Linked DNA regions of Homo sapiens: all the other regions are linked to region 3. Evidence: fine-mapped expression QTL. A gene starts in region 3. Each other region holds a variant in brackets. All regions are shown on one strand. Distances are between the middles of the regions.

Evidence for each region. PIP is the estimated chance that this variant, and not a neighbour inherited with it, causes the effect.
Region 1: its variant is fine-mapped to the expression of LINC01772 in whole blood (TOPMed, PIP 0.99).
Region 2: its variant is fine-mapped to the expression of LINC01772 in monocytes (TOPMed, PIP above 0.99).

The regions. Positions count from the first base shown.
Region 1 is chr1:16,421,920-16,430,096 of GRCh38, forward strand. SPATA21 (spermatogenesis associated 21) reads right to left here. Exons shown (of 13, transcript NM_198546.1): 4 at 1-52. Among named protein-coding and RNA genes, the nearest start is that of SPATA21, 11 kb to the right of the region's middle. The variant G/C (reference allele first, on the strand shown) is at 4,229.
Region 2 is chr1:16,490,940-16,499,116 of GRCh38, forward strand. It overlaps the pseudogene CROCCP3. Among named protein-coding and RNA genes, the nearest start is that of RNU1-1, 19 kb to the right of the region's middle. RefSeq lists enhancers at 1-131, 132-775 and a silencer at 7,899-8,177. The variant C/A (reference allele first, on the strand shown) is at 3,730.
Region 3 is chr1:16,457,689-16,465,865 of GRCh38, forward strand. It overlaps LINC01772 (long intergenic non-protein coding RNA 1772), which reads left to right and starts at 3,260. Exons shown (of 2, transcript NR_147210.1): 1 at 3,260-5,599. NECAP2 (NECAP endocytosis associated 2) reads left to right here. Exons shown (of 8, transcript NM_018090.5): 8 at 1,154-2,390. The coding sequence ends at 1,202.

The sequences.
Region 1 (8,177 bases), 36 kb before region 3:
GCTTTTTTAGGTCCAGGCGTGGATGGCAGGAAGGGGTTGACTGTCTTTTCCTCTGGAGCCACGACGGACATTGGGGGCATTGCTTCCTGAGAGCTGTCCCCATGTCCCCCTGGGCTGGGCTCTGGCGGAGCCTCCTGTGGCCTGATGTGTGGGACACCTGCCTCCTTGGGGTGCTTGCCTCCCAGTGGCTGGCCATGGCTGGCCAAGCGGCAGCAAGGCTCTGCTGGCTGCACCATGTCTGCCTGGTGACTGGGGGTGGATTGATATCCGGAGCCCTGTCAAGGACAAGGACACCACGGCTGGGGAGCTCCATCCTCGTTCCCAGGTGAACCTCAATGCTCCAGGCGAACTGGAGACCAGTTATTACACACTTACTAGGGTCCCAGCACTTCAGGCATCATCTTACTTAATTCTCCTAGTGCCCCTAGAAGGTAGCACAGGTACTCCCACATTTTGAAGGGTGAGGAAATTGAAGCCCAGAGAAGGCGTGGCCTACCCAAAGAACCACACTTCCCTATGGGAGTGGAATGAGAGCCTGGAAAATTGAGAAGATCCCCTTTAAATAGGGTTTTCCTTTGTGTGTGTGTGTATTTTTTTTTTTTTTTGAGACAAGTCTCACTCTGTCACCCAGGCTGGAGTGCAGTGGCAAGAACACAGCTCATTGTAGCCTTGACCTCCTGAGCTCAAGGGATCCCCCTGCTTCAGCCTCCCAAGTAGCTGGGACTACAAATACCTGTCACCACGCCTGGCTGATATTTTTTAATTTTTGGTAGAGATGAGGTCTCACTATGTTGCTCAGGCTGGTCTTGAACTCCTGGGCTCAAGCATTCCTCCTGCCTCAGCCTCCCAAAGTGCTGGGATTACAGGCATCAGTCACCATGCTCAGCCTTAATGGGATTTTCCAAGGGATACTTCAAAGAACAAGAATCCTTCATGAGCCTCCTTAAAAAGAGGAGGTTTTGGCCAGGTGTGGTGGTTCACACCTGCAATCCCAGAATTTTGGGAGGCTGAGGGGCAGGTGGATCACTTGAAGTCAGGAATTCATGACCAGCCTGGCCAACATGGAGAAATTCTGTCTCTACACAAAATTAGCTACGCATGGTGGCTCATGTCTGTAATCCCAGCTATTTGGGAGGTTGAGGGACGAGAATCACTTGAACCCAGGAGGTGGAGGTTGCAGTAAGCCATGATCACACCACTGCACTCCAGCCTGGGCGACAGAGTGAGACTCTGTCTCTTGAAAAAAAATAATAAAGGCCTAAGTGGGTGGATCACACGAGATTAGGAGTTCAGGACCAGCCTGGCCAACATGGTGAAACCCTGTCTCTACTAAAAACACAAAAATTAGCTGGGCGTGGTGGTACGTGCCTGTAATCCCAGCCACTCAGGAGGCTGAGGTGGGAGGATCACTTGAACCCAGGAGGTGGAGGTTGCAGTGACCCAAGATCACACCCCTGCACTCCAGCCTGGGCAACAGGGTGAGACTCCATGTCAAAAAAAAAAAAAAAAAAAAAGTGGTATATTATGGTATATCCATAGAATGGAAATATTACTGAGCAACCAAAAGAACAACATGTTGATACACACAATACATGAATTTCTTTCTCTTTCTCTCTCTCCTTTTTTTTTTTTTTTTTTTTTGGAGACAGAGTCTCACTCTGTTCTCCAGGCTGGAGTGCACTGGCATGATCTCAGCTCACTGCAACCTCCGCCTCCCAGGTTCAAGTGATTCTCCTGCCTCAGCCTCCCGAGTAGCTGGGACTACAGGCACCTGCCACCATGCCCAGCTAATGTTTATATTTTTAGTAGAGACGGGGTTTCACCAGGTTGGCCAAGCTGGTCTTGAACTCCTGACCTCAGGTGATTCACCCGCCTCAGCCTCCCAGAGTGCTGGGATTACAGGCTGAGCCACCGCACCCGACCTAGATGAATCTCAAATAGTCATGTGGAGTGAACGAAGCCAGACAGAAAGAATGTACACTGTACAATTTCATTTGTGTAAAATTCCACGAAATACAAACAAATCTATAGTGATAGTTGGTAGTCGCCTGGGGATAGACTAGTGGGAGGGGGGATGAGAAAGGGCATGAGGAAATGGTTGGGGTGATGGCTATGTTTGCTTTCTTGATTGTGGGGATGGTTTTGTGGGTGTGTACATATGTCAAAATATTAAATTGTACACTTAAAGTATGTGCAAGTGAATGCCAATTATACCTTACTGAAGCTGTTAAAAATAAATCTTACCAGGCTGGGTGCGGTGGCTCACACCTGTAATCCCAGCACTTTGGGAGGCTGAGGCAGGAGAATGGCATGAACCTGGGAGGCAGAGCTTGCAGTGAGCCGAGATTGCGCCACTGCACTCCAGCCTGGGCGACAGAGCAAGACTGTCTCAAAAAAAAAAAAAATCTTACAGATAAATAAAAAAAGATCTTGTGGTCAAATAAGTTTGGGAAAGGCAATATACTCTAACCATATCTTTTTAAAATTTTTTATTTATTTTTTTATTTTTATTTTTTTTGAGACAGGGTTTCACTCTGTCACCCAGGCTGGAGCACAGTGGTGTGATCTTGGCTCACTGCAGCCTGGACCCCAGGCTCAGGGGATCCTCCCATCTCAGTATCTGGAGTAGCTGGGGCCACAGACATGTGCCACCACATCCAGCTAACTTTGGTATTTTTTGTAGGAACGGGGTTTCACCATGTTGCCCTGATCTCAAACTCCTGGGCTCAAGCAATCCTCCCACCTCAGCCTCCCAAAGTGCTGGGATTACAAGCACGAGCCACGGCGCCTGGCCTCTAATCATATCTTGCAAAATCTTACAAAGGCTCAGCAGCTAGTAAACTGCTTCCAGGATATCCTAGCATACAGAAACCTGTTTCAGCTTTGTTAAACTCAGCATGTCCCAATATTATCTGTATACAGAACCTGGCACCTCCTCCCTCCCCCCTGCACCCATTGACATACCGTGGGGCCACTCTGGAAACAAGACTTATTTTTATTTTATTTTTATTTTTTTGAGACGGAGTTTTGCTCTCATTGCCCTGGTTGGAGTGCAATGGCGCGATCTCAGCTCACTGCAACCTCCACCTCCCGTGTTCAAGCAATTCTCCTGCCTCGGCCTCTTGAGTAGCTGGGATTACAGGCATGTGCCACCACACCCGGCTAATTTTATATTTTTTAGTAGAGACAGGGTTTTACCATGTTGGCCAGGCTGGTCTTGACCTCAGGTGATCTGCCTCCTTCGGCCTCCAGAAGTGCTGGGATTAACAGGCGTGAGCCACCATGCCCGGCCTGGAAACAAGACTTAAATGCTTGTGATGTAGGCTGGGGGAATAGCCCAGTGACCCACAGACTGAGTGCTTGACATCTTCAGGGCACAGAGGTGAGCAAACATTCTGTCACCCAGGCTGGAGTGCAGTGGCCTGAACATAGCTCATTGTAGCCTTGACCTCCTGGGCTCAAGGGATCACCCCTGCCTCAGCCTCCCAAGTAGCTGGGACTACAGATACATGCACCAGAATGGGGGGCATGATAGGAGGGGGGCTCTTTCACCTCCTCTGTGGTAGGTCATTCCATACCCTTCTCCCCAGATCTCCTAGGTTACCTGGCAGCTCTCAGGAGGCTGATCCTCCCCGATTCCCCGGTTCCGTTGCCTCCCCTGCTGGCCCTTGATCTCCTTTCCGGAGCCCAGCTGCTGCAGCCCTTCAGGTACTTCAGGAACCCAGGAAGGCAGCAACCCCAGCTCACTCTGATCCTGGCCTGCTTGCAGCTCCTGGGACCCTTCCTGGGGGACCCAAGAGGGCTGTTTCTTCCTGGGGAAAATAGACAAAGTGACACTTTAGCTCCCAGACTGGGGCACTGTTTTATATATTTTTACAGGGCTAGGCATACCATAGGTGCATAGCTAACGCCTGGAAGGACCAATGAAGGACTCACAGGAATTCCCCAAATCATAGACACTTTGATGTCAATGTTTGGGGGAGTTAAAATTTAAACTTTCACAATTATTTGTAGAGACAAGGTCTCTCTGTGTTGCCCAGGCTGGTCTTGAACTCCTGGGCTCAAGCAATCTTCGACCTCGGCCTCCCAAAGTGCTGGGATTAGAGGTACGTGCCATTGCATCCAGCCTAGAATTTAAGTTTTATAGTATTTTTAAACTGTTTTTCAGAAAAAAATGAAACAAAAATCAGAACTGGGATGCAGAGAGGACAAGAGATTTGAGCCTAAG[G/C]TCATAAAGCTAAAGATAACTGTTCAAAATTTGAAGCTGTGTCTATCCGATCTCACTTTAGTATTCTGGAGTATTTCCTCCAAGCTTCTTCCTATGCGTATGCATACTTATTTATTTATTTATTTATTTGAGACAGAGTCTTGCTCTGTCACCCAGGTTCGAGTGTAGTGGCATGATCTCAGCTCACTGCAACCTCCACTTCCTGGGCTCAAGCAATCCTCCCGCCTTAGCCTCCCAAGTAGCTGGGACTACAGGCATATGCCACCATGCCTGGCCAATCTTCATATTTTTTGTAGAGATGGGGTTTCACCATGTTGTCCAGGTTGGTCTTGAACTCCTGGGCTTAAGTGATCCGCCAACCTCAACTTCCCAAAGTGTTGAGATTACAGGCGTGAACCATGGTGCCCGGCTATATATATATATATATATATATTTTTTTTTTTTTTTTTTGAGACAGAATTTTGCTCTTGTTGCCCAGGCTGGAGTGCAGTGGAGTGATCTTGGCTCACTGCAACCTCTGCCTCCTGGGTTCAAGTGATTCTCCTGCCTCAGCCTCCCAAGTAGCTGGGATTACAGGCATGTGCCACCATGCCCAGCTAGTTTTATATTTTTAGTAGAGATGGGGTTTTGCCATGTTGGCCAGACTGGTTTTAAACCCCTGACCTCAGGTAATCCACCTGCCTTGGCCTCCCAAAGTGCTGGGATTACAGGTGTGAGCCACTGTGCCCGGCCTAATGTACTTTTTTCAATTAACATCATAGCCTGTGTTTTTCGCATGCTAAAAATCCTTCAGAAACATGCTTTATATGTTTTCTTATGTTCATTAAATGTATAAAATTCCATATTTTAAAGATAACCATCATTAACCATTTCCCTATTGTGTGGGCGCTTAAGGGGTTTCTAATTTTTTAGTATTTAAGATAATGTGACAGTGAAAGTCTTTGTGCATAAAACTGCTTGAATCACCAATTATTTCCTCATGGCCTATTTCCAGAAATGGGTGAGGATAAAGGGAGTTTCAAGGCAGTTTAAACAAATTGCCACGTTGATGAAACAGGTATGCTTAAATGGTTTCTATTTCCACCGGCATGGTATGCAGTAGTTGTCTCAGTGGGCCTCGGACCTGGCTTGAGTTGTCTCTCCTAACTTTTCTTGTAGAGGAGGCTATTTAGGAGCTTCTGGTTATAGTCAAATCCAACTAAGCCAGCTAGTCTTTACTATTTCTATTATCCCAGCCTTTCACTTTGCCTCTATCTGGCTCGCTCTTGATTTTCTCTTTTTGAATACATTCTTGCTGTAGAAAAGTTTTAAAAAAACACAAAATTTAGAAAACAATTACGTGTACATCTTTACATGTTCCTGTGTCTCCTAACCTTTTTTTGTTCATTATTCTATTAATTCAGTGAATCAATATTTATCGAACATTTACTATGTGTCAGGCATAGTACTAGGCATGAGGGCTTTGAGGTTGAACCAGGTATATGATGCTCCTCAAACAAGACACATAAAAGATGTTTGTGGTCTCGTTGGGGGAGTTCAGACAAAAGGTTAACATGAACTCTTTAGTGCAACTGGTGCAATGAAAGAGAAGGACAAGGTGCTGTCGTGGGTGGAGCTGCCTTGGCCTGGGAGTTCTCCATTCTCTCTCTCTCCCCCGCGGGTGGGCTACAGGGGGTTCTCTCTTGGACCTGTTCTCTCGAGAGCCCCTCAGCTCACCCTGGTCTTGCTGGAGGCCCCTGCTCCTGGATTCTGAGCTCTGAAGGCCCCTTCTCAAATGCATCTCTGAGTCTGGGCCCCTTCTCTGGCCCTCGTGAAGCTGATGAGAGGTGCTTCTTGCTGCCCACTTCCGAAGCATCCGGAAACATGACCTGGACAGAGATATCCATGGCAGTGGCTTGAGGGCTGGCATTGAGTACCCGTTCTGGAGTGATCCCTCCCACTCCTCCCTGGGTACTCTTCTGGCCTCAAGGACAGGGAGATCCTGTGCCTGATTGGGGAAGCTGTTGGAGAGGGGTGAGCAGGAGCTGAGAGGCAGGGATGCAGGGCCCGGCCCTGCTGTTGCTGTTGCTTAGCACGTAAGGCTCTGGTATGAACTGGAGTCCAGATTAGTACCCGAGACAAGGGGATTGCCTTAAGGACAGCTTGAAAGAGCACCCTGGGGGACCCCAAGACTCTCACAAGGTCCAAGAGACGCCTTCAACAATTCCCATGCCTTCAAAACGCAGGCTCTAGTTTGAACTGAGTTTTTATTTCATTTTTTGAGAGAGAGTTTCCCTCCTTTGCCCAGGCTGGAGTGCAGTGGCACAGTCTCGGCTCACTGCAACTTCCACCTGCTGGGTTCAAGCGATTCTTGTGCCTCAGCTTCCCGAGTAGGTGGGATTACAGGTGTGCGCCACCATGCCCAACTAATTTTTTTTTTTTATTTTTTTTGTAGGCCAGGCTGGTCTCGAACTTCTGACCTCAAGTGATCCGTCTGCCTCAGCCTCCCAAAGTGCTGGGATTACAGGCATGAGGCACCGCACCTGGCCTGAACTGGGTTTTGATCACTATCATGGTCTGTCACTCTCCAACTGGGTGACCTGGAGCCAGTGACTGAGACCCCGCTCCAAGCATCACCGGAGTCAGCAAACTCCAAACAAATGGACTTAATTAACTCATTGACATTGATATAATACAAGATTCTGATGTGAGCTAATACTAACAGGCACCTACTATGAGACAGGGCCTGTGCTAGGTGCCTTAGTCAACACCGTAAAACAAATGAGGCTGCAAGGGGTGCAGTGACAGGCCCAACATCACACAGCTGGGTAAGTGGTGGGACTGGGACCCCATGACGGTGCTTGTTGAAAAAATAAATGGGTGGATGAAGGAAGCCCTGAATGTTCACCTCTAGCCTCTCTCCTAGCCTCCTCCCCTCCAGGCCCTCTCCCTGCCCCAGGGGAAGTGAGGATTTATAACAGAGGCTACAGGGAACATACCCAAGGGCATGTTGACTTTTTATTTTTTTTTTTGGCTTTTTTTTTCTTTTCCTTTTTGTGGAGAACGGGGTCTCGCTATATTGCCCAGGCAGGCCTCGAACTCCTGGACTCAAGCTCTCCTCCCGCCTCTGCCTCCCTAAGAGCTGGGATCACAGGCGTGAGCCACCGCGCCTGGCTTTGTTTTTTTTTTGAGACGGGGTCTCACGATGTTGCCCAGGCTGGTCTTTAACTCCTGGGATCAAGCAATCCACCTATCTCTGCCTCCCAAAGTATTGGGAGCAGGCGTGAGCCATGGCACCTGGCTGACTTTTTATTTTATTGTATTGTATTTTATTTATTTGTTTGTTTGTTTGTTTATTTATTTTTGAGATGGAGTTTCACTCTTGTTGCCCAGGCTGGAGTGCAATGGTGCAATCTCCGCTCACCGCAACCTCCACCTCCCAGGTTCAAGCGATTCTCCTGCCTCAGCCTCCCAAGTTGCTGGGATTACAGGCATGCACCACCATGCCAGGCTAATTTTGTATTTTTAGTAGAGACTGGGTTTCTCCATGTTGGTCAGGCTGGTCTTGAACTCCCGACCTCAGGTGATCCACCCGCCTCGGCCTCCCAAAGTGCTGGGATTACAGGCGTGAGCCACCGCGCCCGGCTGGCTGACTTTTTAAATGGTGATATCTTTGGCCCTGAGGAAACTGGATGGTGAGGAGGGTCTTCTTTATGCTCTTCAGTTCATGCTACTTGGCACATTCAAAAAGAGGCCAGTGGGGCGCAGTGGCTCACGCCTGTAATCCTAACATTTTGGGAGGCCGAGGTGGGCGGATCACTTGGGGTCAGGAGTTCAAGACCAGCCTGTCCAACATGGTGAAATCCCATCTCTTCTAAAAATACAAAAAAAATTAGACGGAAATCATTTGAACCCAGGAGGCAGAGGTTGCAGTGAGCCATGATCACACCATTGCACTCCAGCCTGGGTG
Region 2 (8,177 bases), 33 kb after region 3:
AGGTTAAAGCATCAGGCAGGGCAGGTGGAGGGCAGGGGCAGGCCTGCCCCTGCCCCACCCTGGCACCCACCCTTAGCCGCTGCTGCTCCAGCTCTCCGGATCTCTCCAGCAGCTGCTGCTCCAGCTCCGAGTACCTCTTCTTGTACTGGAGAATGTGGGGATGGGGAGCTGATGGTGACCCCCATGGGTGGGGGCAGGGCAAAATGAACATGTGGGAGGGCAGGAGCAGGAGTGGGTGGCCCTGACCTTGCCCTGCAGCCGCTGCACACAAGCTGGGCCTGCCGCTGCTGGCCCTCCAGGTAGGCCTGCAGCTTGCGCTGGTAGGAGGCCTGCTCCTCCTGTAGCTGCCTCTGCAACTCCAGGCTCTGGGGTGGGGGCTGAGGAGGGAGGGGATGGAAAAGGACAGGAGAGGAGGGAAGCAGAGGTGGGGAGCCAAAGGAAGAGGAAGGATGAAGAGAGGGGAGGAGAAGGGAGAGAAAGGGAGGGAGGAGAGAGAAGAGGGAATGGGGGGAGGAAAGGAGGGGAGGCAGCTGGAGGTCAGGACCTCACACACTCTTCACCCTCCGCAGGTTGTTGGGTCCTAGAGCCCTCCAAGCCCAGGGGGTGGGGTCAGTAGCCACGTAGTGCGAAAGGCCAGAGTCCTAAGTATTTGGGATCATCTTTGCTGGCCCAGAACGGGGGTCACAAGGTTAGCTAAGAATGAGAGGATTTACGTTTTCCCACAACAGGTGTAGGGCAAAGAATGCAGGCTGTGAGATCAGCCAGGCCAGGCTTGGCACTTAGTTGGGCATGAGCGGTCCAGCCTGGACTGATGAGCATTTATGCAACACCTGCAGCATTCCTAGGTCTGACCTAGACAGAGTGGTAGAGCCTCGAACTACAAATGCCCTAGCCTTGCCCTTCAGGCACTTATTGGGAAGCTTCTGGCCCCTTCACACCCACCCCAGCCCCTACTAGCTGGGTGCACCAGGGACAGTGACTCTGCCTCTCTCTGAGACTCAGTGTCCTCTTACGTAAGATGTGAATAATATTGGTACTCACCTCACAGAGCTGTCCGGGGATGAAACAGAATATCGTGTGTGCATAACCAGCACATGACACGGTGCCGGGGGGACACACGGTCAACACTCAAGAAATACTCATTTCCTTCATTTGAAAATGCAAAAGGCACAGTCCTGCCAGGCATGGGCACTCACACCTGTAATCTCAGCATTTTGGGAGGCCAAGGCAGGCGGATCACCTGAGGTCAGGAGTTCGAGACCAGCCTGATCAATATGGCGAAACCCCATCTCCACCAAAAATACAAAAATTAGCCGGGTGTGGTGGCACATGCCTGTAATCCCAGCTACTTGGGAGGCTGAGGCAGGAGAATCAATTGAACCTGGGAGGCGGAGGTTGCAGTGAGCTGAGATCATGCCATTGCACTCCAGCCTGGGCAACAAGAGCGAAACTTTGTCTCAAAAAAAAAAAAAAAAAAAAGGCACAGTCCCTATATCCCAGGGCCCTGAGACCCAGAGGTCACCCACAACCTCCCATTGTTCTTTCCCTGGGGCAAGGAGGCTATGTGCTCTAGTGCTTAGGCGCACAGCTCTGGAGTCAGTATCAGGTCTGAGGTTGCATCTGAGACCCAGCTCTGTCACTTGCAACTATGGTCTTCAAGACAGTTCATGACCTTGAACAGGTTACCTCCCTGAGCCTCAGTTTTCTCATCTCTAAAAGGAGACTAGACCAGGCCAGGCGCAGTGGCTCAAGCCTGTAATTCCAGCACTTTGGGAGGCTGAGGCGGGCAGATCACTTGAGGTCAGGAGTTCGAGACCAGCCTGGCCAACATAGTGAAACTCCATCTCTACTAAAAATACAAAAATTAGTCTGTAATCCCAGCACTTTGGGAGGCCAAAGTGGGCAGATCACGAGGTCAAGAGATTGAGACCATCCTGGCCAACATGGTGAAACCCCGTCTCTACTAAAAATACAAAAATTAGCTGGGCATGTTGGTGCATGCCTGTAGTCCCAGCTACTTGTGAGGCTGAGTCAGGAGAATCGCTTGAACCTTGAAGCTGACTGTGGCATTAAAGACATCAGTTAGCTTGTCTGTTGTTCCCAGAATACCAGCCCAGTAGTGGGAGGGCCTACCTTGTTCACCTCCCTATCACTCGCATTTTGAGTGTCACCAACCCATGCCCACAGTTCCCTGGAAGATCGCTATGGTTACCGAGCAGAGGCACGGAGGAAGCCCCAAGAGGCCACACTGCAATGAGCGGAGATCACACCACTGCACTCCAGCCTGGCAACAGAGTAAGACTCTGTCTCAAAAAATAAATAAATAAATAAATAAATAAATAAATAAATAAATAAATAAATTAGCTGGGGCGTGGTGGCATGTGCATATAATCCCAGCTACTCAGGAGGCTGAGGCAGGGGAATCACTTGAACCCAGGAGGAGGAGGTTGCAGTGAGCCAAGATTGTGCCACAGTACTCCAGCCTGGGTTACAGAGCAAGACTCTGTCTCAAAAAAATAAAATAAAATAAAATAAAATGATACTAGACTGGGTGTGGTGGTTCAGGTCTGTAACCCCAGCACTTTGGGAGGCCAAAATGGGAGAATCGCTTGAGCCCAGGAGTTTGAGACCAGCCTGGGCAACATAGCGAGACTCTGTCCTACCAAAAACAACAAAAAAATGCGACTGATAGTACCTACCACACCTGGCAGGTGGTGAGCTATTAGCCAATGGTGGCTGCTGTTCCTATTGTCATTAGCATCACGTGTCTGGCCTCCTGCCCTTAGAGTTGTAAGCCCTGAAAAAGGACAGGAATTGCTCACTCGAGGAGCTCGGCTTTTAAGACACAAGTCTCCTGAAGTTCCCGGCCGAATAAAGCTCCTTCCTTCTTTAACCTGGTGACTGAGGAGTTTTGCCTGCGGCTCGTCCTGCTACACTGCTATGCCTCAGCCCTTGACCTCTGGGTGCCCGCTGCTCCATGCTGTGCCCCAAAGGGGGCATATTCACATTATCTCATTAAATCCTTACTTCAACCCATTTCCAGATGAGAAAACTGAGGCTCAGAGAGATTGGGCTCTCACCTATTCAAGGCGACATGCTTCAGGGAAGTGGTGAGCCCAAAGCTCATTCCACTTAGACCAGCAGCCTCCCAATGAGTGACTGAAGGGCAAGGCCGAGGCATTTGTGCTTTGAGGCTCTACTTCTGTATCCAGGTCAGACCCAGAATGCCACGGTGCTGTATAAATGCTCATCAGTCCAGGCTGGACCGCTCATGCCCAACTAAGGAACCTGCCCTGCAAATGGAAAACCAAGAAACAGGGCCAAAAAGATAAATGTTGCCAAGTTGCAATGGCAAGCAAGCCAGATTTGGGCAAAACCAAACCAGCCACTGGCCAGGTGCGGTGGCTCATGCCTGTAATCCCAACACTGGGAGGCCAAGGCAGGTGGATCGCTTGAGGTCAGGAATTCTAGACCAGCCTGGCCAATGTGGTGAAACCCCGTCTCTACTAAAAATACAGAAATTAGCTGGGCATGGTGGTGGGTGCCTGTAGTCCCAACTACTCGGGAAGCTGAGGCACAAGAACCACTTGAAACTGGGAGGTAGAGGTTTTGGTGAGCTGAGATCGCACCACTGCACTCCAGCCTGGGTGACAGAGAGAGACTCTGTCTCAAAAAAAAAAAAAAAAAAGAAAACTAATCCAGCCAGCAGCATAGAGCTGCCACTACAAA[C/A]CCCAGGGACGCCCACTCTTCTACCTCTAGGCAGCCTCCAAAAATCCCCTCTACAGGTTGCACACCTGCCCACCAGAGCAGGGGGGAAGCCACAAATACCCCTGGACCAGCATGTCCAGCCCTGCATGCCTAGCTCAGCAGAGGGGGCCCCAGATGTCCTTGAGGGACTGAACTCAATTATTCTGTGCCTTCTCCTGACCACAGTCCTAAGGGTTGGGGGAAGGAGACAGGATGTCAGCCCCTGGCACCAGGTGACACCCACCCTTGGCTCCATCCCCAAAGTTCTCCCCCAGAGTCCTGCTGGGTTCTGTGGGTCCCAGGAAGTCATATCTGAACCCCGTGTATATGTCCACTGCTTCCACCCAATTCTCCAAAAAAAAAAAAAAAAAAATGACTGAATTCCTCTTAGAAATCTGGATGCTAACAGCTTCAGCATCTGGCCACCTGGACTCCAATCTTGGCTCACCAGCCCCTCACCAGCTGTGTGACCCTGCACCAGTGTCTTCACTTCTCTGAGCTTCAGTTTCCTCATCTGCAAAATGGGATAATAATGGTGCCTGTTTCTAGCATGAGCATTAAATAAAATACTCCGTGCTAAGCTATATGCCTGGATATGGTGTGGCAGAAACTGCAATGTGCTCACCACAAAGCATTTCCGATTCCTCTTAGGAATATGGCTAAAAGCCATTTCCCAGACTCCCTTGCAGTCAGATACGGCCATGTGGTCAAGTTCTGGTCCATAGAATTAAGACAGAAAGACAGCGTGCCACTTTAGGCTTGGTCCATAAAATTATTTCTCTCCTTCCTGGTCCATCAGCTAGAAGGAAATAACTCCAAGGTCCTAGGGGATGCCGCAACCACAAGACAGAAGGGATCTCGGTCCCTGGGTCGCCACATAGAAAGCCACCTGCCAAACACCCAACAGGGCTTTTCATGAATGAGAAATAAACTTCTATTGCGCTAAGCCTCTGAGAATTCAGGGTTTCACTATCACATTAGCTAGTGTTACCTTAATTACTACCTGCAGTTCAACAGCGGGTAAGTGTTGGCTATTACTACTGTTATCATTACTATCATGAGTATTATTGGCTCTTTCTAGTCCCCAAGCTAGAACCCTGTGCCTTGTTCTAGATGCTGAGACATTATTTGGTGACCAAATACAGAGGAGACACCCTTTGTACCCTTCCCTCCCCACTACCACCCTCCAAACTTGCCTTTTGCCAGGGCTAGCGGCAGGAACTAGCCAAAAAGCCCCTCAAAGATTACTCGTTTCAAACATAGCAGCTGCTCTTATCCGCTTACCCCTTCATTATCCTCCTGCTGCTGACTAGAAATTATGACAAAAATATTGAACCAACCACGAGCCAGGCCCTGTGCCCAAAACGTTACATCTGTCCCTTACCTGCTTTAACACTCCTGGCACCACCCTACTCACTTTACAGATGACAGCGTGAAGTCTCAGTGAAGTTAAATAATTGGCTCCAATGCACCCAGCCACAAAGAGCTCAAGTCACAGCCGCGACCTAGGTGTGCCTGATTCCAAAGGGTTTTTGTTTTTTGTTTGTTTGTTTTGTTTTGTTTTGTTTTTGAGATGGAGTCTCACTCTGTCACCCAGTCTGGAGTGCAATGGCACAATCTCGGCTCACTGCAACCTCCGCCTCCTGGGCTCAAGCAATTCTCCTACCTCAGCCTCCTGAGTAGCTGGGATTACAGGTATGCGCCACCGCGCCCAGCTAATTTTTGTATTTTTAGTAGAGACAGGGTTTCACCATGTTGGCCAGGCTGGTCTCAAACTCCTGACCTCAAGTGATCTACCCGCCTCGGCCTCTCAAAGTGCTGGGATTATAGGCATGAGCCACTGCGCCCAGCCCAGAGTTTTAAATAATAACAGCAAGCCGGGTGCAGTGACTCACACCTGTGGTCCCAACACTTTGGGAGGCTGAGGTAGGAGGATTGCTTGAGCCCAGGAGTTTGAGACCAGCCCTGGCAACATAGTGAGAATCCATCTCTACCAAAAAAAAAATACAAAAAATTGGCCTGGCATGGTGGCATGCACCTCCTGTAGTCCCAGTTCCTTGAGAGGCTGAGGCAGGAGGATTGCTTGAGCCTGGAAGGTTGAGGCTGCAATGAGCCATGGTTGTGTCACTGCACTCTAGCCTGGGTGATAGAGCAAGACCCTGTCTCAAATAAACAAAACCAGTAACGGCAATGACTTCCATCCTGCAGCGCCTGCTGTGTACCTGGCACCACCCCAGGACGCCGATGTGTATTATATAAGCCACTGCCTGGACTGCTGAGATGGCTCCCCGAGGGTCTCTATGCTTCCTGCTCATCCCCTCACCCACTCAAGTTTCACACAGTAAAGGTCATATCCCTCCCCTACCCAAGGCCCTCTACTAGCCCTTACCGCACCTAAAATGAAGTTCAAAGTCCTTCCATGGCCCACAGGGCCCACCAGATCTGGTCCCACTCCACTTCTCCCACCTCATCTCCTTTTTTTTTTTCTTTTTTTTTTTTTTTTGAGGCAGAGTCTTGCTCTGTTGCCCACGCTGGAGCTAGAGTGCAGTAATGCACGATCTCTGCTCACTGCAACCTCTGCCTCCTGGGTTCAAGCAATTCTCCTACCTCAGCCTCCCGAGTAGCTGGGATTATAGGCATGAACCACCATGCCCAGCTAATTTTTGCATTTTTAGTAGAGATGAGGTTTCACTGTATTGGCCAGGCTGGTCTTAAACTCCTGACCTCAAGTGATCCACCCACCTTGGCCTCCCAAAGTGCTGGGATTACAGGTGTGAGCCACCACACCCGGCTGCTCATGGCCTTCTTGATTCCTCAAACACCAGGCATGCACCCACCTCTGGGCCTTTGCACTGCCACTTTCTCTGCCTGGGACGCTCTTCCCTCTTCCTTTGCACAGCTGACTCCCCCGCTTGTCGGCCAGATTTTTGCTCAAAAGTATCACCTTCTGAGGGACCTACCCCTGACTCTCAGCTAAAGAGGTCCCTCCAGTGGCTGTTCCGTTTTCTCCAACATGTATGTTGTCTGTCTCCTCCTTTTTTTTTTCTTTGAGACAGGGTCTTGCTCTGTTGTCCAGGCTGGAGTGCAGTGGCAAAATCATGGCTCACTGCAGCCTTGACCTCCTGGGCTTAAGGGAGGCCCAGGAGGGGGGGCCTTTGGGAGGCCACCTCAGCCTCCTGAGTAGCTGGGACCACAGGTGCATGCCACCATGCCTGGCTAATTTTTTACTTGTTGTAGAGATGAGATGTTGCCCAGGCTAGTCTCCAACTCCTGGGCTCAAGCCGTTCTCCCACCTCAGCCTCCCAAAGTGCCAGGTTGGCTTAGTTCACTGCCACTTCCACAGTGCATGGGCTAAGGCCAAAGCTCCATGAAGAGCTGCTGAATGAATTAATGAATGCTAAGAGCCAAGGACACCAGCGAACACATATCCAGCATCTGCCGCATCCCAGAAGTTCAGGGTGAAAACCAGGGAGTGACCCCCACAGGGGCCACCTGGGTGGAAAGGGGGCCTCCCCTCCTAGGGCTGAAAGACTGGGGAGGGGAGGGTTAAGTCAGGGAAATGTGCGCGGGTGGGGAGCCTCCGAGATCCAGGGGTTGACTCCTGGAGTCGTGCCTGAACCTCGCTGTCCTCTGCTCCCGCCACAAGATCTGTTTATTAAGCACCTGCTGTGAGCCCAGCGAAAGAAAACAGAAATCTCTGTTTTCTGGCGTAAACAGACAGATGGCACCCTGAAGGCCCCCTCCCCAGGGTCCCCATTCCCCAGTCAATCGTCTTCCCAAGGGAGCTGTGACCTGGTCACCAGAGGGGCAGACATCCGCCCCAGCACGGTCGTCAGGCTTAAGTCTGTGTGAAAATCAGGAGGGAGCTCGTTCAAAATGCCCACTCCAGAGACGCTGCCGGGCACAGGGGCCTGAGGCCCCATGGTGAGAGGCGCAAGGGGTGCAGGGCCCCATCCCCGCACAGCATCCGGCGGCCCTGCCTCCGTGGCCAGCCCAACCGCGCGCTCTGGGCCTCAGTTTACCCATCCGCACAATGGAGATGCTTCCGACTCGGCAGGGTTGCAATGAAGACGAAACCGCGTCCCACACTAGGAGGGCAGTGCAGGGCGGGGCCCGCACGCAGGAGCTGCAGAGGGCATCTGCGAGGGGTAGCGGCCGTCGCGAGGGCCTCCCACGGCCGCCCGCGGAGCGAGGGGACCCCGACCGGCGGAGGGACGGCTGCGCCCTGCAGGCCGCTGCGCCCAGGCAGGCCTCTGCGCCCGGGCAGGCCTCGGCCTCCTGTCGCGCCCCCGGCCCGCGACAATCCGGGCAGGATGGGCGGCAGGACGCGGAGGGGCATCTGCGGAGCCCGTCGGGAACGCCCTCTTGGCTTCCGGTGCCGGGCAGCGGCGGGCGCGGCGCCCACAGCGCCCCTAGCCCCGGGACATGGC
Region 3 (8,177 bases):
ACAAAATATAGTAATTCTGTTTTTTTTTTTTTTTTTTTTTTGAGACAAGGTTTCACTCTGGTTGCCTAGGCTGGAGTGCAGTGGCGTGATGTCGGCTCACTGCATCCTTGACCTTCCAGGCTCAGGTGATTATCCCTTAGCCTCCTGAGTAGCTGGGACTACAGGCAATTGCCACCACACCCGGCTAATTTTTTGTATTTTTAGTAGAGGCGGGGTTTTGCTATGTTGCCCAGGCTGGTCTGGAACTCCTGGAATCCAGCAGTCCGCCTACCTCAGCCTCCCAGAGTGCTGGGATTACAGGCGTGAACTACCATGCCTGGCCCAAAATATAGTAATTATTGATTACTGAAAAAGTCAAATCCTAGAAAACGCAGCATTCTTACATGTGATGTTAACATCGTTCTTGAACAGTTTTTAGCCTAAGATTCATTTGAGGAGTCTGATTTTTCCAAAATAGTTCTGATTATTCAGATGATTCTGAAATAACTCCAAGAACAGTTTTTATATTTTATTTTCACGTTGAAAATCAGTCAGATTTGCTTCAGCCTCAAAGAGCATGTTTATGTAAAATTAAATGAGGGCTGGCAGTGAGCTATATTTTTTCTACATGGGAAAGGGGTTAAGACTCTTCGGCCAGGCATGTTGGCTCACGCCTGTAATCCCAGCACTTTGGGAGGCCAAAGCAGGCAGATCACTTGAGGCCAGGAGTTCGAGACCAGCCTGGGCAACATGGCAAAACCCTGTGTCTACTAAAAGAAATACAAAAATTAACCGGTCATGTAGTTCCAGCTACTAGGGAGGCTGAGGTAGGAGGATCGCTTGAGCTCAAGAGGTTGAGGCTATAGTTGGCCTTGAGTGTGCCACTGCATTCCAGCCTGGGCGACAGTGAGACCCTGTCTCAAAAAAAAAACAAAACAAAAAACAAAACCACAAACAAAAAACTTTGGTAAATACAGTTACATTAACTATTTAAAAAAAAAAAACCATCGAGGGCCAGATTTGGTCTCTGTGCCAGAGTTTGCTGACTGCTGCTCTAGAACATTTAGGAACTGGCTTCTTAGAGCTTTTTCTGTCCAGAGAGAAACCAACTTTTATCTGCTTTGTATTTTCAAAGATCTGAACTCCCCCACCCTTCCCTGTCTTCTCTTTACAGATCAACTTCCAGCCAGACCCAGCCAGGCACAGGCTGGGTCCAGTTCTGACCTGAGCACGGTTTTTCCTCATGTGACTTCTGGGAAGGCGCTCCCTCATCTGGGCCAAAGGAAGGAGGACGAAGCCCTCCTCAGCTGGCCTGTGTTTGGGGCATGAATCTCTCCTCTCCTCCTTGTCTGGCTCTGTTGACAAACCGGGCATGTTTGGCAGTAAATTGGCACCGTGTCACACTGTTTCCTGGGATTCAAGTATGCAACCAGAACACAGGAGAAGAAAAGCTCCAGGATCCCTGTCCCCATCTGTCCTCTTGATGTGAGAGAGACTCTGAGACTTCTTCCATCGCAATGACCTGTATTAAACACAAGCCCCCCAAGCAAAAGAAGAGGTTGAGTTTGCTGCCAGGATTCAGATCAGCCCTTCCCAGGGTCTGCAGGTGTCACATGATCACAGTTCAGCGGGAGGCTTTCCGTACCCACACTGGCTGTAGCCACTTCAGTCCATCTGCCCTCCAGAGGAGGGGTTTCTTCCTGATTTTTAGCAGGTTTAGAGGCTGCAGCTTGAGCTACAATCAGGAGGGAAATTGGAAGGATTAGCAGCTTTTAAAAATGTTTAAATATTTTGCTTTGCTAATGTGCTGATCCGCACTAACTCATCTTTGCAAAAGGAACTGCTCCCTCGGCGTGCCCCAGCTGGGGCCTCTGAAGGGATTCCTCACTGTGGGCAGCTGCCCTGAGCTTCAGGCAGCAGTGTTTATCTCTGGCCAGTTGTCTGGTTTCCATGTATTCTAGGCCAGGTAGGCAACACAGAGCCAAGGCGGGTGCTGGAAGCCAGACGGAACAGTGTTGGGGCAGGAAGGTGGATGCTGTTGTCATGGAGCTGTGGGAGTTGGCACTCTGTCTGCTGGTGGCCCTCTCGGCTCACATGTTCACAGTGCAGCTCCTGGCAGACTTGGGTTTTCTCTTTGGTGGTTTCTAAAGTGCCTTATCTGCAAACAACTTCTTTTCTCCTTCAGGAACTGTGAATGGCTAGAAGAAGGAGCTCAGTAAACTAGAAGTCCAGGGTTGCTTGGTTTACTGGTTTATAAGAAATCTGAAAGCACCTCTGACATTCCTTTTATTAACTCACCTCTCAGTTGAAAGATTTCTTCTTTGAAAGGTCAAGACCGTGAACTGAAAAAAGTGTTGGCCTTTTTGCGGGACCAGATTTTTAAGATAAAATAAATATTTTTACTTCTGTCATTGTATGTGAAAGATGAATGTGTTTCTGGCCGCGTGGCTGTTAAACTCTTCAGGGTGCCACAGCTAGACTCACGGCCACTTCTCTCACCACTGACCAAGTGTCCAGATTGAAAGTTCAGGGCTGGGGTGTGAGGCTGGCCAAAGTGAGGAAATGCAACCTTGTTGTCTAAGGCAATCGGTACCTTCTCTCCTGTGTTCTCTAGGATAGTACAGTCTTTTCATCATCCTTTGGTTGATGTGAAAGTAGTTGCTTGAATCACTTTGTGTGGGGCTTAATTCTCTTGTGGCGTCTCATGATACAGGCCGTTCTAGAGAGCCTGGCCCCTTGCTTTCCGTCTTCCACCAAACCTACCGGCAGAGCATCTCCCTAAGTAGTAAAGGGGTGCAGATACCCAGAGGTCAAAAGTAAAATTAAGAGGCCGGGTGCAGTGGCTCACGCCTGTAATCCCAGCACTTTGAGAGGCCAAGACGGGAGGATCATTTGAGGCTGGGAGTTTGGGACCAGCCTGGGCAACATAGTAAGATGCATTTCTTTCCTTTTTTTTGAGACACAGTCTCAGTCTGTTGCCCTGGCTGGAGTGCAGTGGAGCAATCTTGGTCACTACAACCTCCGCCTCCCAGGTTAAAGTGATTCTCCTACCTCAACCTTTCCAGTAGCTGAGATTACAGGCACCTACCACACCGAGCTAATTTTTGTATTTTTTCAGTAGAGATGGGGTTTCACCATGCTGGCCAGGCTGGTCTCAAACTCCTGACCTCAAGTTATCTGCCCGCCTTGGCCTCCCAAAGTGCTGGGATTATAGGCGTGAGCCACGGCACCCGGCTGTTAGACCCCATTTCTTAAAAAAAAAAAAAAAAAAAAAAATTAGTGTGGTGGTGGTGCATGCTTGGAATCCTAACTACTTGCGAGGCTGAGGTGGGAGAATTGCTTGAGCCCAGGAGTTTGAGGCTGCAGTGAGCTATGATCACGGCCTCGCACTCCAGTCTAGGCAGCAGTGAGACCCTAGAGAATTCTCTAAAAGAATTAAAAATGAAAAAAAGCCACAACACTTCTTTTGCCTGAGGATTCTGTAAGAAGCAGTTTTTATTGTTATGGAAATAGCCACTCTGATTAAGAAACTGTAGAGAGGAGAAAGAAAATGAAAATTGAAGATTCTCTTGCCCATTGAATTAAGGGTAAGGAGATTGCATTAAAGGATCTTCGGGAGCAGTAACTTTTTTATGTCGATTTCACATAGCATTACTTCACATCGAGTCAGTTTTAAGTACTTGGAGGGTGGAAATCAGAAAGCTTAGATGTAGAGGAAGCTTTATTAGAAGTGTGTACCATGGCTGGGTGTGGTGGCTCATGCCCACAATCCCAGCACTTTGGGAGGCCGAAGTGGGTGGCTTACTTGAGGTTAGGAGTTCGAGACCAGCCTGGCGAACATGGTGAAACCCCGTCTACTAAAAATACAACAATTAGCCAGGCATGGTGGCGCACGCCTGTAATCCCAGCTACTTGAGAAGCTGAGGCATGAGAATTGCCTCCAGGAAGTGGAGGTTGCAGTGAGCTGAGATCATGCCACTGTACTCTAGCCTGGGCAACAGAGCAAGACTGTCTCAAAAGGAAAAAAAAAAAAAGTATGTACCATTGAAGATCAGCACTTGGATTGTGGAGACAGACCTGGCCTTAGGATCTAGGCTATCCCCTGGTTAGACGTGTGGCCACAGGCTGTTCCTTCACCTGAGCGTCACTCGGATGAGGCACTAGCAGATGCACATTGCATTGTTTGACCTTAATGACCTTTCTCTGGAGTCAGGTAAGTACCCAGAACAGTTCATCATGGTAGGGAGGAGGAGGTGGCACAGCTGATGACACAGCCCTCAGGAATCTAGCCTGAAAAGCACCTTGTGGGGTCTGGGGCCAGGAGCAAGGGACAGCTTGATGCTGTCCATCACTAACTGGAATCCCAGCTGGAAAAAACTCATTACAGGACCAGAATCTCCAGGAAAACTCAATCCCAAACCAGGCATCACTTCAATTACACCCCTGACTGGAGTTTACAAACTGGTGGGTGGATGGTAGAAGATGGCTGCTTTCTTGGGGGGTATGCTAGACCTCACTTGCCCTCTGCACAACAGAATTTGGATGCACTGGGAGGTGTGGCAGATAGACTCCCAGGTGGTCACTGTGATCCCCACCTGCTGTTCACAGCCTTATGTACTCCCTGCCCCTTGAGATGGCCTAGACCTGTGACTGCTAACCAGTAGAGTGCCACAAAGGTGACAAGATGTTATTTTCATGGTTGCCTTATGTAAGACTGCAACATCTGCCTTGCTGAGAAATTCTCTTGCTGGCTTTGAAGAAGGAAGCTGTCATGTTGTGTGAGCTGCCCTTGGGAGAGGGTCAGGTGGCTAGGAACTGAGGTAGCCTCTGACAGCCAACAAGAAACTGAAGCTCAGTCCAGCAGTCTGCAAGAAAGCAAATGCTGCCAGCAACCACACAAGCTTGGAGGCTGATCACTCCCAGGTAAGCCTTCAGGTGAGACCCCAGGCCTGACCAACACTGACTGCAGCCTTGCAGAGGACCAGCTAAGCTGTGCCCAGACTGTCCCATAGGAACAGATGGTAAATGTATTGTGTTAAGTCGCTAAGTTTCTGGTAAGGTTATGCAGCAATAGATAACCAACACAAAGGTTAGCAAAGTGTGTTTGAGGTGGGAATCAGTGTGGAAAAGAGAGAATCTGGATAGACTTAATAGCTGTAGGGCCTTGGGAGGTCCCTTATGATGCTCCTTTGGGCCTTCCTGTTGCCTTTAAGTAATGCTTATTGTTTATTGCTAAAGTAATGCTTAACTCTCTGCTAGGCACTATTCTATGCACTTATAAAACTCATTGCATCATCTCTACAACCCCATGAGGTAAGGACTTGTTTTTTTTGTGTTTTGAGACAGTCTCGCTCTGTGGCCCAGGCTGGAATGCAGTGGCATGATCTCAGCTCACTGCAACCTCTGCCTCCTGCGTTCAAGCAGTTCTTCTGCCTCAGCCTCCGAGTAGTTGTGATTACAGACGTGTGCCAGTACTTCCGGCTAATTTTTTTGATTTTTAGTAGAGACGGGGTTTCATCATGTTGGCCAGGCTGGTCTCAAATTCCTGACCTCAAGTGATCAGCCTGCCTTGGCCTCCTAAAATGCTGGGATTACAAGTGTGAGCCACCGCACCTGGCCAGTAAGTACTTGTTTTAGTCTATTTGGGACTATGACAGAATAACATAGCCTGGGTAGTTTATAAACAAAAGAAATTTTTTGCTCACAGTTCTGGAGGCTGGGAAGTCCAAGGCACCAGCAGATTCGGTGTCTGGTGAGGCCGTCTTTTTGCTGTAACCTCACATGGTAGAAGGGGCAATAGAGTACTCTGGGGACTTTTTTTTTTTTTTTTTTTTTTTTTTAAGAGATGGAGTCTTGCTATATTGACCAGGCTGATCTCAAACTCCTGGCCTCAAGTGATCCTCCTGCTTTGGCCGCCCAAAGTGCTGGGCTTAAAGGCATGAGCCACCACATGGGAATGGCACTGCCTTTTTTTTTTTTAAAGATAGTTTTGCTCTTATTGCCCAGGCTGGAGTGTGATCTTGGCTCACTATAACCTCTGCCTGTTGGGTTCAAGCAATTCTCCTGCCTTAGCCTCCCAAGTAGCTGGGACTACAGGCACATGCCACCACGCCCAGCTAATTTTTGTATTTTTAGTCAAGATGGTGTTTTGCCTTATTGGCCAGGCTGGTCTCAAACTCCTGACCTCATGATCCACCTGCCTCAGCCTCCCAAAGTGCTGGGATTATAGGCGTGAGCCACCACACCTGGCTGGGGCTTCCTTATAAGGGCAATACTGTTTGTGAGGGCTCTACGCTTATGACATAATTACCTTCCAAAGAACTCACCTCCAAATACCATCATACTAGGGGTTAGGTTTCAGTATGAATTTGGAGGTGGGGGTGGACACAAATGTTTATAGCAGTACTCATCCCTGTTTCGAAAATGAGAAATGCAGAGAAATTATATAATTTGTTCAAAGTCACATGGTTGGTAAGTGGCAGAGCTGGGATTTGAACCCAGGCAGTCTGGCTCCAGCATCCATGCTTTTAGTCAGGGTGGCTACTTCTTTGGAGCAGTGCTCCCTGCAAAGCCTGGCACATAAGACCCCCTTAATATATGAAAAGTCCCATTCCCTCCACATGGCTTACGAAAGCCGTGGCAAGTAGGAATGACAGGCGAAGGGTGGGGCTTTATTCCATTGGTGATTGAAAGCTACTGAAATGCATCATGGGCACACAGTAGGTGCTTAATAGTTGTCGATTTCTATGAGCTGGGAGTGAGAAAGATACCATGCTCTGTGGACTGAGTGGACTGGAGTAGGGAAAAGACCAATTTTTCCTCACCGCAGCTTGAATGTAGACAGATACTGTTTTTTTTTTTTTTTCTTTTTTTTTTTTTTTTTTTTTTAGCCAACCATACAAAGCCTGTAAGTAGGTACTTTATTTATTTGTATTTTTATTTTTTTTTGAGACAGATTTTCACTCTTGTTGCCCAGGCTAGAGTGCAATGGTGCAATCTTAGCTCACTGCAACCTCCACCTCCCAGGTTTAAGCGATTCTCCTGCCTCAGCCTCCCAAGTAGCTGGGATTACAGGCTTCCGCCACCATGCCTGGCTAATTTTTGTATTTTTAGTAGAGACAAGGTTTCATCCTGTTGGCCAGGCTGGTCTCAAACTCCTGACCTCAGGTGATCCGCCTACCTCAGCCTCCCAAAGTGCTGGGATTACAGGCATGAGCCACCACACCCGCCCAAAATGACCTGCATTTGTCATCTCCGCTTCTGTGGTCAGGAATCTGGTGCAGCTCAGCTGGGTCACAGGCCTCTCACAGGCTGCAGTCAAGGTGTCAGTCGAGGCCGCACTGTCATCTTAAGGCCCAGCAGGGAAAGCGTTTGCTTCCAAGCTCGCTCACGTGGTTTTGGGCATGATTCTGTTCCTCGTGGCTGTTGGACAGAGGTCACTCTCATTTTCTTTCCACGTAGGCCTCTGCATAGTTCACATCTTTGCAGTTGCTTCATTGAAGCCAGCAAACGTGATTGTGGCAAGATAGCAGTCATAGTTTTAATTCCAGAAATGATCCCATCCCTTGGCTGGGTCTTCAGAGTAGAAGTCACAAGTCCTGTCCGCACTAAGTGGAGGGTGTGGATACCAGGAGGCAAGGATCATTGAGAGCCATCTTAGAAGTCTACCTGGCCGGGGTGCAGTGGCTCACGCCTGTAATCCCAGCACTCTGAGAGGCTGAGGTGGGCCGATCACGAGGCCAACAGATGAAGACCATCCGGGCCAACAAGGTGAAACCCCGCCTCTTCTAAAAATTAGCTGGGCGTGGTGGAATGCGCCTGTAGTCCCAGCTACTCGGGGGGCTGAGGCAGGAGAATCACTTGAACCCAGGAGGCAGAGGTTGCAGTGAGCCGAGATTGTGCCACTGCACTCCAGCCTGGCAACAAAGCAAGACTTCGTCTCAAAACAAGTCTACCTGTGTATTAGCTTGCTAGGGCTGCTGTAACAAGTGACCACACACTGGGTGCTTTAAACCACCTGAATGTATTTATTCTCTCCCAGTTCTAGAGGCTGGACATCTGAAATCAAGATGCCAGTAGGGCCATGCTCCTTCCAGAGGGTCTAGGCCAGAATCCTTGCCACTTCAGGCTTCTGGTGGCCCCGAGCATTCCTTGGTGTGTGGCAGCATCACGCCAATCTCTGCCTCCTCCCTGTGTTT